Linked DNA regions of Homo sapiens: region 2 is linked to region 1. A link means that fine-mapping ties the variant in region 1 to the expression of a gene that starts in the linked region. Tissue or cell type: monocytes. Region 1 holds a variant in brackets; the other region holds the start of a gene. All regions are shown on one strand. Distances are from middle to middle.

Region 1 (5,262 bases):
CTTTACAGCTCCAATAATGCATACATCTCATATTACTTGTCTCCTGATATGAGTAATGGAAAGGACAAAACATTATCTTGGTAATGTTCTTATCAGAGTTTAACCTGAATCTAATGATAGAACAGGGAGCAGATCAAAGGACATTGTAGAAACAACTAACCTAGACTCTTCAAAATGTCTAAATCATGAAAAATGCAAACAAGAAGTGTCTTGGATTCAGAGCCTAAACTAAATGCAATGAACAATCCTTGACTGGATCTTGAATCAAGGGAAGAAAAGTTAAAAGGGCCATTATTGGAGCAACTGGGAAATCTGAATACGGACAAATTAGATAATCTTACTGTATCAATTGAGAATTTCTTGAGTATGATAATGGTATCGTGCTTGTATCTGAAAATATACACCATCTGAAAATGGTGTATAAACGTATTTATAGACCATCTGTAGAATTTTCTTCTGAGAAATACAAACGCAAGTTTGTTTTAATTTGGGTGAAAAGCTACACTGCATCTAATTTAATAACAAATTGACTGTTCCATAACTTCTACATTTGGGCTTCGACTTTTTTTTTTTTTTGAGATGGCTTTTCTCTCTTATTGCCCACGCTGGAGTGCAATGGCATAATCTCAGCTCACTGCAATCTCTACGTCCTGGGTTCAAGCAATTTTCCTGCCTCAGCCTCCCAAATAGCTGAGATTACAGGTACCCACCACTACGTCCGGGTAATTTTTGTATTTTTAGTAGAGACAGGGTTTCACCATGTTGCTCAGGCTGGTCTCGAACTCCTGACCTCAGTTGATCCACCTACCTCGGCCTCCCAAAGTGCTGGGATTACAGGCATGAGCCACTGTGCCGGGCTGGCATCTACTTCTTAATGGTCACTATGCCTGCTTGGGTGCCAGAAGGGGGCAGGACATGGGTCTGTGAGCACAGATCCCCAGATCCTGGCCTAGGATGGAGTCCCTGCTCAAAGCCCACAGACCCTCAGCCAATGTCTTCCTAGGAGCTGCATGCTGAGGTATCTAGGCATGAAGTGAAATTATGTCTGCAACTTTCAAATGAATCAGAAGAAAAAAAAAAAGAAAAAAATTAAAAGATGGCCATTACACTATTTTTTCAACGTTGAGGTTTGAAACTTATTCAAATAAAAAGACTAGAATTCATGGTAGTATATATTATCTTTGCCAGATAATTCTGCCCATTTTAAACATAATGACATGGCTGGGTGTGGTGGCTCATGCCCGTAATTCCAGCACTTTGGGAGGCCGAGGCGGGCAGATCACCTGAGGTCAGGAGTTCGAGACCAGCTTGACCAACATGGTGAAACCCCTGCCTCTACTAAAAATATAAAAATTAGCCGGGTGTGGTGGTGGGCACCTGTAATCCCAGCTACTCGGGAGGCTGAGGCAGGAGAATCGCTTGAATCTGGGAGGTGGAGGTTGCAGTGAGCCGAGATTGTGCCATTGCACCCCAGCTTGGGCGACAAGAGCAAAACTCCATCTCAGGGAAAAAAAAAAAAAACATAATGAAATAAACAAAATAATGCATTTTAACTAAAGATTCGCTAAAAGATTCCTATTTCACATCTGTTACTTTAGTGAAACATTGTATATCCTGGCCAGACGTGGTGGCTCAAGCCTGTAATCTCAGCACTTGAAGAAGCCAAGGCGGGTGGATTATTTGAGGCCAGGAGTTCGAGACCAGCCTGGCCAACATGGCAAACCCCTGTCTCTACTAAAAATACAAAAATTAGCCAGTCATGGTGGCGCATACCTGTAATCCCAGATACTCAGGAAGCTGAGGTACGAGGACCACTTGAACTGGGTGGAGGAGGTTGCAGTGAGCCGAGATCATGTCACTGCACTCCAGCCTGGCAACAGAGCCAGACTTCATCTCAAAAACAAACAAACAAAAAACCATCACAGGCGAGGTGCTGTGGCTCACACCTGTAATCCCAGCACTTTGGGAGGCCAAGGTGAGCAGATGACCTGAAGTCAGAAGTTCAAGACCAGCCCAGCCAACATGGCGAAACCCTGTTGCTACTAAAAATATTTTAAAAATTAGCCGGGTGTGGTGGTGCATGCCTGTAATCCCAGCTACTTGGGAGGCTGAGGCAGGAGAATCGCTGGAACCCGGGAGTCAGAGGCTACAGTGAGCCAAGATCATGCCACTGCACTCCAGCCTGGGCAACAGGGCAAGACTCTGCCTCATAAATAAATAAATAACCATTGTATATCCATTAATATTAAAAATAAAAACTTAGATCTCACAATTTCAAATCACCAATCCGTTTTTTTTTAATTATGTTTACTTGACAAAATGCAGCTCAAGATTGAAGGACTATGTTCTTATGTACAAGATAGGATGAATTTCTCACTAATGTCAATTTGATTTAGTCACCCTTTCCCTTAACAAAATTAGTTTTCTTTGAAGCTAGATGAGAAAAAAGCCTAAGACTTAAAGTCAACTACAGTAATTAGTTTTCCAAAAACATGGTCTTTGGAAATAGATCTCAGTTTCAACTGTAGCCTGAGAGGAAAGTAAGAATCTTACATTTGCTAATCCATCCTGCTTTATTTTTTATTTTATTTTATTTTATTTATTTTGAGACGGAGTAGCACTCTGTCACCCAGGCTGGAGTGTAGTGGCATGACCTTGGCTCACTGCAACCTCTGCATCCCGGGTTCAAGCAATTTTCCTGCCTCAACCTCCTGAGTAGCTGGGACTACAGATGCGTGCCATGCCCAGCTAATTTTTGTATTTTTCTAGTAGAGACAGGGTTTCG[C/T]CACGTTGGCCAGGCTGGTCTTGAACTCCCGGCCTCAAATGATCCACCCATCTCAGCCTCTCAAAGTGCTGGGACTACAGGCGTGATCCACCATGCCTGGTCTTATTTATTTACTTTTTGAGACAGAGTCTTGCTCTGTCACTCAGGCTGGAGTACAGTGGTGTGATCATGGCTCACTGCAGCCTTGACCTCCTGGGCTCAGGTGATCCTCCCACCTCAGCCTCCTGAGTAGCTGGGACTACAGGTGTGCACCACCTCACCCAATTAATTTTTGTATTTTTTTGTAGAGATGGGGTTTTGCCATGTTGCCCAGGCTGGTCTCTATTTTCTGGGCTCAAGCAAACCACCTGTCTCAGCCTCCCAAAGTGCTGGGATTACAGGCGTGAGCCACCACTCACAGCCCCTGCCAAATTTTAACTCTGAATTTTTAATTTGTATGAAATAGATTTTAAAATACCATCAAGGTCAGAGAAAAATGCATGAATTTTGCTTTATAGAACTTCATATAATTCTAAAATATCAGATTACACAACAGGGACTGATGGGTCCAACTTAACCAGGCTGAGAAAAAGCACTTCAGTTCAGAGAGACAGGGAAACTAGTAGTTTCACAGTTCAATACCCTGCAAAAGATGGCAGGGGATGAGTTAGTTGAGGGCACAAGAGCTTCACAGTCTATGGCAGGGGATGGTGAGAACGATGGCAACTCTTAGGGTATAAATAATGAGCTAAGTGGACATTTGGAATGGGAATATTACATACGCTGGTGTTATTAGTTATTGTCATTGTCAATGAATCAGATTCCACAAAAGGAACAAGATTCCTAATTTGGCATGAACGCAGATGAATAAAATGCAGGATCTCAGCTTGTGAATTAATTAGTACTATGACACAGGCAGACACTAGCTGACATTCCCCTACATAAGAATGGAGGCTATTAAAAACTTTTTCCAGTATAACTAAATAGCGCCTGACCCCACCTCAAAATAAAGGGCTACCTGATGTAATTCAGGTTTTTGCCCCAAGTCTCCAAACCCTTTTCCAGATTTTTTATTTTCACTTCAGCCCAGAGTGGTGCAAATAAAGGTACAGAGTAGTGGGCCTGGTGTTAGCAAATCAGAAAGAAGCAAAACAGGATGAACCCTTGGGAACTTAAGTTTCCTGCTGCTATTCTTCTAGGCTTATACCACTTTCCTCACCACTGTGAGGTCCAGCCTGCTTTTCACCTCAAGGTCTGGGCACTGCCCCTTCCCCTACAAAGAACAATCAGAATCTAGGTTTTGCTGAAAAGAAGCTGATCTTTACTGAGTCACAAGCAAACTCAAAGACAATATCAGCAATCACTTTGAACCCTGTTTCCCCGAAGCATCTATGTGAACAAGAAAATATCAAGTCTCTCTAAGGAAGGTTTTTTTAAAAAAATTTTTAAATGCTAAGGAATTTTTTTAAACTTCCATATAACTAACGCTAAAGGGGTTTAAATCAGGGTTTAAAATATTCCCGCTTAACCACTAATTATTAACTCATGTAGGAATCACAGCATAAAAGACTATGATTTGACAATTACTGTATCATTAAAAATACTAGAAACTACAAAGAGCCAGAAATTTGTATCTGATTATTAGACCAACTAATGAAAAATGCCACTTAGTAGACACCCACTTATGCAGAACTTAAGCTCAGTACATAGTCATGAAATAAGCTGAAGTTCTTGCCCATCTGGAGCTTATTATCCTTATGGCATAGAGATAAAAGCAGAAGTGACAGATGGAAACACCCATGTACCAAAATACCATTAAAAAGGGGATTCTTAGAATGATCAGACCAAAAGCTGACTGGTGACTTCAGACATACATGAAAACTTTACACTTAGAGTGTAATGTTTATGGATACAAATTAGTTAGGTGATCAAAAATTTCAACTCAGAATTCTAAAACTTCATTTGTATAACTTTAGCTTTAATTCAAATTAATGAAATAACTGAAAACCACTGTCTTTTTAAACAAAATGCTATTTGCAAAAAGAAGAGCAAACCTTTCCACTCGGATGTTGAGGTCCTCTGCAGGTCTCTGATCTGAGCATCCACTAGGCTCCTGAGAGGAAGTGGCATGGCCTGCACTTTCTCCTCCTTAATTATTAAATAAAAAGAAATAAGAATACTGCATTTAATGCAACTTTTTAAAGGAATAAATCTTTCAGATTATAGCATCTGTTAATAATTTTATATCTTAAGCATTATATATTTTCCCTAAAAATGGAGAAGGAGCTAAATATGCTATTACTAATCCTAAAGTTTAGACGTGGATAAAATTGTTCACAAATAGAAATAAAGCAGTTACCGAGTTAAAATCACCAAGGTAAAGGTCAGATGTAAAACATGAATAACAATCTGGCAGGAGGCATGCCTGGCTATGGGTAGCCTTCACTCTAGAGCAGTGCCCTCCAATATCTATACTGTCTAACACAGCAGCCACTAGA
Region 2 (5,000 bases), 220 kb before region 1:
CTTATGTGGATCCTGCAAAGCAGCCAGAGCACCATAGCAGAGCTGTTCCCCTATTCTTTGGTCTGTGGAATAGGCTACCATACCGGATAAAGCTAAGAGGAAATCTCTAAAAGTCACTTTCCCAGCCCCCAACTAGGATAGGAAATCATAAACAATAACATGTCCCCAAGGGGAATAGTGGAGATCAGTGCAACCCTTAAAGACGTAATGGTTGGTAGTCTCCATCACATTCCTATTGTCACCGGTGTGGCTCCAGCAAAAACCAGACAAATTCAGGAACTTGACAGTAGACTACTGCAAGTTCAACCAAGTCACAGCCTCAGTTGCAGCTGTGGTATCTTTACTACAGCAGATTCTTAAGACCTCAGGCATATGACATGTGGCCACTGATCTGGCAAATGCTTCTTTTCTATCACTATCAGGAAAGGAGGCCAGAAACAAGAATATATATTTACAGTCTTATTCCAGGACTAAATAAGAATACTTTTATCAAGGCAACGGGGCCAAAGTAAGAAAGAAGTACATGGACAGGCCTCATGGACAGATGGAAAGGTAAGATCGCTACCCTAGCAAAGGGATAATAGATGGGATTTGTATTCAGATTTCTGATAACCAGTCCATACATTAGGACTATACCTGATTGAGGCAATCCAAGTTTTAAAAAAAATTCCAAGATGAAGCAACTTCACAGACCCCCTTCTGTATTCGAATCCCATGAGTATAATGGGATGCCTTTTTTAACGGAATGTGATACTGATCATGAATATTCAGTGTTGCTCCCCAAGGAATGAGTAAATTCTCCTGCCCCCATGAACTCAGGAATGACGATGTGACTTGTTCTCGCCAATAAACTAGGAGAATGTGAAATGTGTCACTTCCAGGCAGCCATTTTAAGAGCTAAATTCTCTTCCTGACTCTGTAATAATGGAAGCATGTATCAAGATGGCGCATCTATCAGCCTAGGTACCTGTGTAATATTAAGAACAGGAACTAGGACTTATCTTTTTATTGCCAGCACCTGATAGAATGCCTGGCACAAAGTAGATGTTTGTAAATAATCTTTGATCAATTAAATAGGGAATAAAATTTCATACCACCTGCAATTAGAAGGAAAGCTACAGGCAAGCAAGGACCATGGCTGTCTTCTCACTACTCCATGGGGGAGCCTCCAGAGAGAGCCTTTCACTTGCGCTGGGATCTATGTGCACCCCTTAACACTTTGTGCCAGACTAAGACACTACCAAGTCAGTTGAAACGACGGAGTGCAAACTCTGGCAGGGGAAACAGTATTAAACCAAATCTCCAAATTATTTTCAATTTCGATTCAAAACTCATGAATGATAGCTTTTTTAAAAAATCAGTTTTTTAAAAAAGCCTAACTTGGGGATATTCGCCCATTGGGCAACCAACACTATGCACTGTCCCTAACACTGCAACAGATCCAGGCAATCAATGCAATTGTATGCGTTTCTTGTTGTCGTTGCCACTGTATTTACACCTCACTTACACAGGGACTGGTAACCCATGCTGCCTTGGCAAGCCAACTGCACTCCTCTGTCCCAACAAGCAGGGCAATGGATTGCGAAGAGGCCTCCTCCGTCCCCAAGCAGCTACGTCGCCCAGGGGAAGAGAGAAGGCGGGAAAGTCCAAGAGAGGAGAAACCAAGGCCCGCGCTTAGGTGGGTGTTTTAGTGACGAGTCTGCGGTTACAGCCGAGCGGAGTTGAAAGGGCTGTTAGAAGAATGGAGCAGAAGTCGCAGTTGGGACGAAGCTGAAGAGAGCTGGCATTCGCCCAGGTCTACAGCCAGCCACCTGGTAACCCCTGCCCCCGCCCCCAGAGCCAATCCAGCGAAACTACCGCGAATTCCCGGGAATTCCCTCCAACTCCGGGAAAACTCCCGGAGGGGCGGGGCAAGAGTGGGAGGAGACCCTGCGCGCGGCCGCCAGCGCTCCGGGATCTCGAGATAGCCGCAGCTCTCGCGATCTTTCTGGAGCCGCACCTCCACGCGGAGTCCGAGCGCGTGTGCTGAGACCCCAGGGTCGGGAGGGCGGAGACTGGGAGGGAGGGAGAAGCCCCTTTGGCCTGCCTTACGGAAGCCTGCGAGGGAGGGTGGTGTCCACTGCCCAGTTCCGTGTCCCGATGCCCAGCGCCAGCGCCAGCCGCAAGAGTCAGGAGAAGCCGCGGGAGATCATGGACGCGGCGGAAGTGGGTTTCCTCCTTTCCTGGGCCTGGGAGGACAGACCCCTGGGCCGGGCTGCGCCGAGGGAGGGAGGAGGGGGAGTGGGGCCCTACAGGTCCTTGTCGGCACGTTCTCCGCAGGCTGCGGGCGTGGGGTCCGGGCGCCTAGAGCCCTTGCCCCAGCAGTGGGGCCAGACCCTCTCCGGACCGCGTTTCTTGCGGGGGTCACCTGGGAGTTTGGCCTACTAGAAGCGTGTCCCCGGGGTGGGGAGGACGGGAAGAACCAGCCGCCCCGGAAGTAGGAGCGCGGCGTCACACTTGAGTCTCTCTGGGTTAGGCACGTCCTGCACGTAATGCACAATCCCTGGGAAAATTTTAATAAGCACTAGTAATCGATATGTACTCAGCCCTCGTGTTCCTAATGCTTTAGCAAGTAATGACAGTACTTAGCAAAACCATCTGCCAATATGTTTAATGACCATTTCCCATGTGACAGCTTTAAAGAACACATGTCATTTTTATTTACTTTCTCCCTCTCAGTGACCCGGTAAGGTAGGTAATAGGAGTTACCGAGAATGCATTTGAGGTGAAGTGACCCCAAATCACGTGGATAATTCATAACACCCAGTGATCCTTCGGTGCTTTTCAGAAATCAAAGTTTGAAACCATCCTACAAGTTATGTGTGCTGTAGTACTGTTAAGCCTTAATTTCCGTCTGGCTCCCTAATTTTTCTATAAGGAGTTCTGAGTTTGTGGTAAGCAACATGAGAAGTAAGGTCATCTTAGAATACTAAATGAGGAAGAGTCACTGAAATATTAATAGTACTAATTATGAATGCAACTTTTTTGTCCTTCACACAATTTAATCTCCTTCTGTTGCCCTCAGGCTTCATTGTGTGACTGTATCTCTCTACTCTGGCCAGGGTTATCTTTTTCTTTAAATTGTTCAGTAAGCGCCTTAAACATGTCTGGTTTTATTTTGGTGTAAACACAAAATCCAGCACCCTCCTGCTCTAAAGGAGAGGATTCCAACAGGTAGCTGTAAAGTGACAGAAACTTAATTGTTTCATACAGATCTTAAGTTACCTTGTAAAAACTAGGGCAATTATTTTTGTGTACTCTTAATCTGCTTAATTACATAAACTATCAGTGTACCCTTACAGATAGTATAGGTCTAGATACAAGGTAGACATTGTGGCAGAGTTATGCCATTTTATAGCTAGAAGAATCTTAGATCATTTTAGAGGTAAAGTAAGATTGAAATAAAGGCCACTTATCTATTTAATAAGTATATTTTGTTAACAGATTGGACCCTAGGTCTTCTGTTTCCTGTTCCTAACTCTAATCTGTAACAAGAAATTTGATATTATTATATTGTCAGTGTCAAACTCCTGTAACCTGGTATCCTGAATCTGGTTTTTAGAAACAGGAAGCTGGTGAATTTTTTGATGATGTTTTACAAAAGGAAAGTTGTAGTTAGCTTATACCCAGCATCTCCAGTTTCTAAAAACTGTGGACATCTGGTGCTCAGAAAGCTTACCCAAAACGTTGGTTCTCTTTGAACATTTCTTCCTGTAATAGGAAGTTAATAAAACTGTGGTACTTCATCCTACTCCCTTCACAGAGGAAATTTATGTCCCTGCTTTGAAGTAGTTTCATCTTTTTGAAGAAGGTAGTTAAGATGTGTTGTACATATGTGTAAATTTTATCTGAGAATGTTATTAAGTATGGTAAATCCATCTAGGAGTGGTGATCTTCAAAACAAACTAACCAGAAACAGTACTTTTCTGTTTTCTGTAGAGTACATATGTAAATGAATGAGAGATTTCCACATTATGAAACTACTGACTTTCTGAATTAATAAAATGATCCTGAAAGTTAAATTCATTTTTATATTCTATTATTAGTATTTATGTGTTTACTGTGCTCTTAGTGTTTACATAAAAAGTCACGATGCAAAAAACTTTTTTTGTAGGATTATGCTAAAGAGAGATATGGAATATCTTCAATGATACAATCACAAGAAAAACCAGGTTAGTAGCTATGTGACAGTAAATAAAGCTTTTTTGCTTTCTAATTCCAGGAAAGCTCTAAATGAAATTTTAAGTAAGGTTGGCATAAATCTGAAGGTATAATTCTGAAAAGCTTAAATGACATTAATAATCCAAGTAGATGTCATAACCCTGTGTAAACATTGTCAGTTTAGGGTTCCAACTCTAGAAAAGGAAAAAAAATGTTATTAGGTATTGTAGGTTAAATGGTATGTTTTAAATGGTAGATTATATTTTTTAAATATTCCTAAATTATTAGGTAAGATTCAACCGTTGTCTAGGAGATAGGAGAGTGGCTAATAACTGCCTTCATCACATGTAGCCTTTTTGCATGCTTTAATAAAGCTACCTCTTTTACTTCCCCCAACCCCCACAACTTTACTTCTCTGACTGTTTTTAGCTATTATTTATTCCTATTTTGCTTGACTCTTCCCAAACATTTATATTTTCACTTATTCTCTACAGCATCCTTGAAAACTAAGGAACCAAAGTTGAAAGATAAGAAACTTGACTTACACAGAGTCTGCCAGACTTGGGATTAGAACCAAAGGCCATCTGACCCTAGAGTCCATGGGTCCTTCCATCTTACATCTTCTCTGGCTTCTTTGGCAGTACTATGATTTGAGTTTTAAAGCCTCCACCCCCACTCCATTTTGTTTACTCGTAGCTTTAGTGTCTGGGAATGAAATGAATTATTCTTAGACCCCAGTCTATCTTTTCTTATAACCGCTCTTTTTTGTTAGTGTATGTTGGCATCTTTATATTTCTTTT

What was found. PIP is the estimated chance that this variant, and not a neighbour inherited with it, causes the effect.
Region 2: it holds the start of DARS1, and the variant in region 1 is fine-mapped to the expression of DARS1 in monocytes (TOPMed, PIP 0.98).

The regions. Positions count from the first base shown.
Region 1 is chr2:135,761,468-135,766,729 of GRCh38, reverse strand. UBXN4 (UBX domain protein 4) reads right to left here. Exons shown (of 13, transcript NM_014607.4): 6 at 4,819-4,912. Among named protein-coding and RNA genes, the nearest start is that of UBXN4, 22 kb to the right of the region's middle. The variant C/T (reference allele first, on the strand shown) is at 2,786.
Region 2 is chr2:135,982,608-135,987,607 of GRCh38, reverse strand. It overlaps DARS1 (aspartyl-tRNA synthetase 1), which reads left to right and starts at 1,982. Exons shown (of 16, transcript NM_001349.4): 1 at 1,982-2,205; 2 at 4,154-4,211. The coding sequence starts at 2,140. It overlaps DARS1-AS1 (DARS1 antisense RNA 1), which reads right to left and starts at 2,432. Exons shown (of 4, transcript NR_110199.1): 1 at 2,092-2,432. RefSeq lists an enhancer at 2,136-2,235 and a silencer at 2,286-2,345.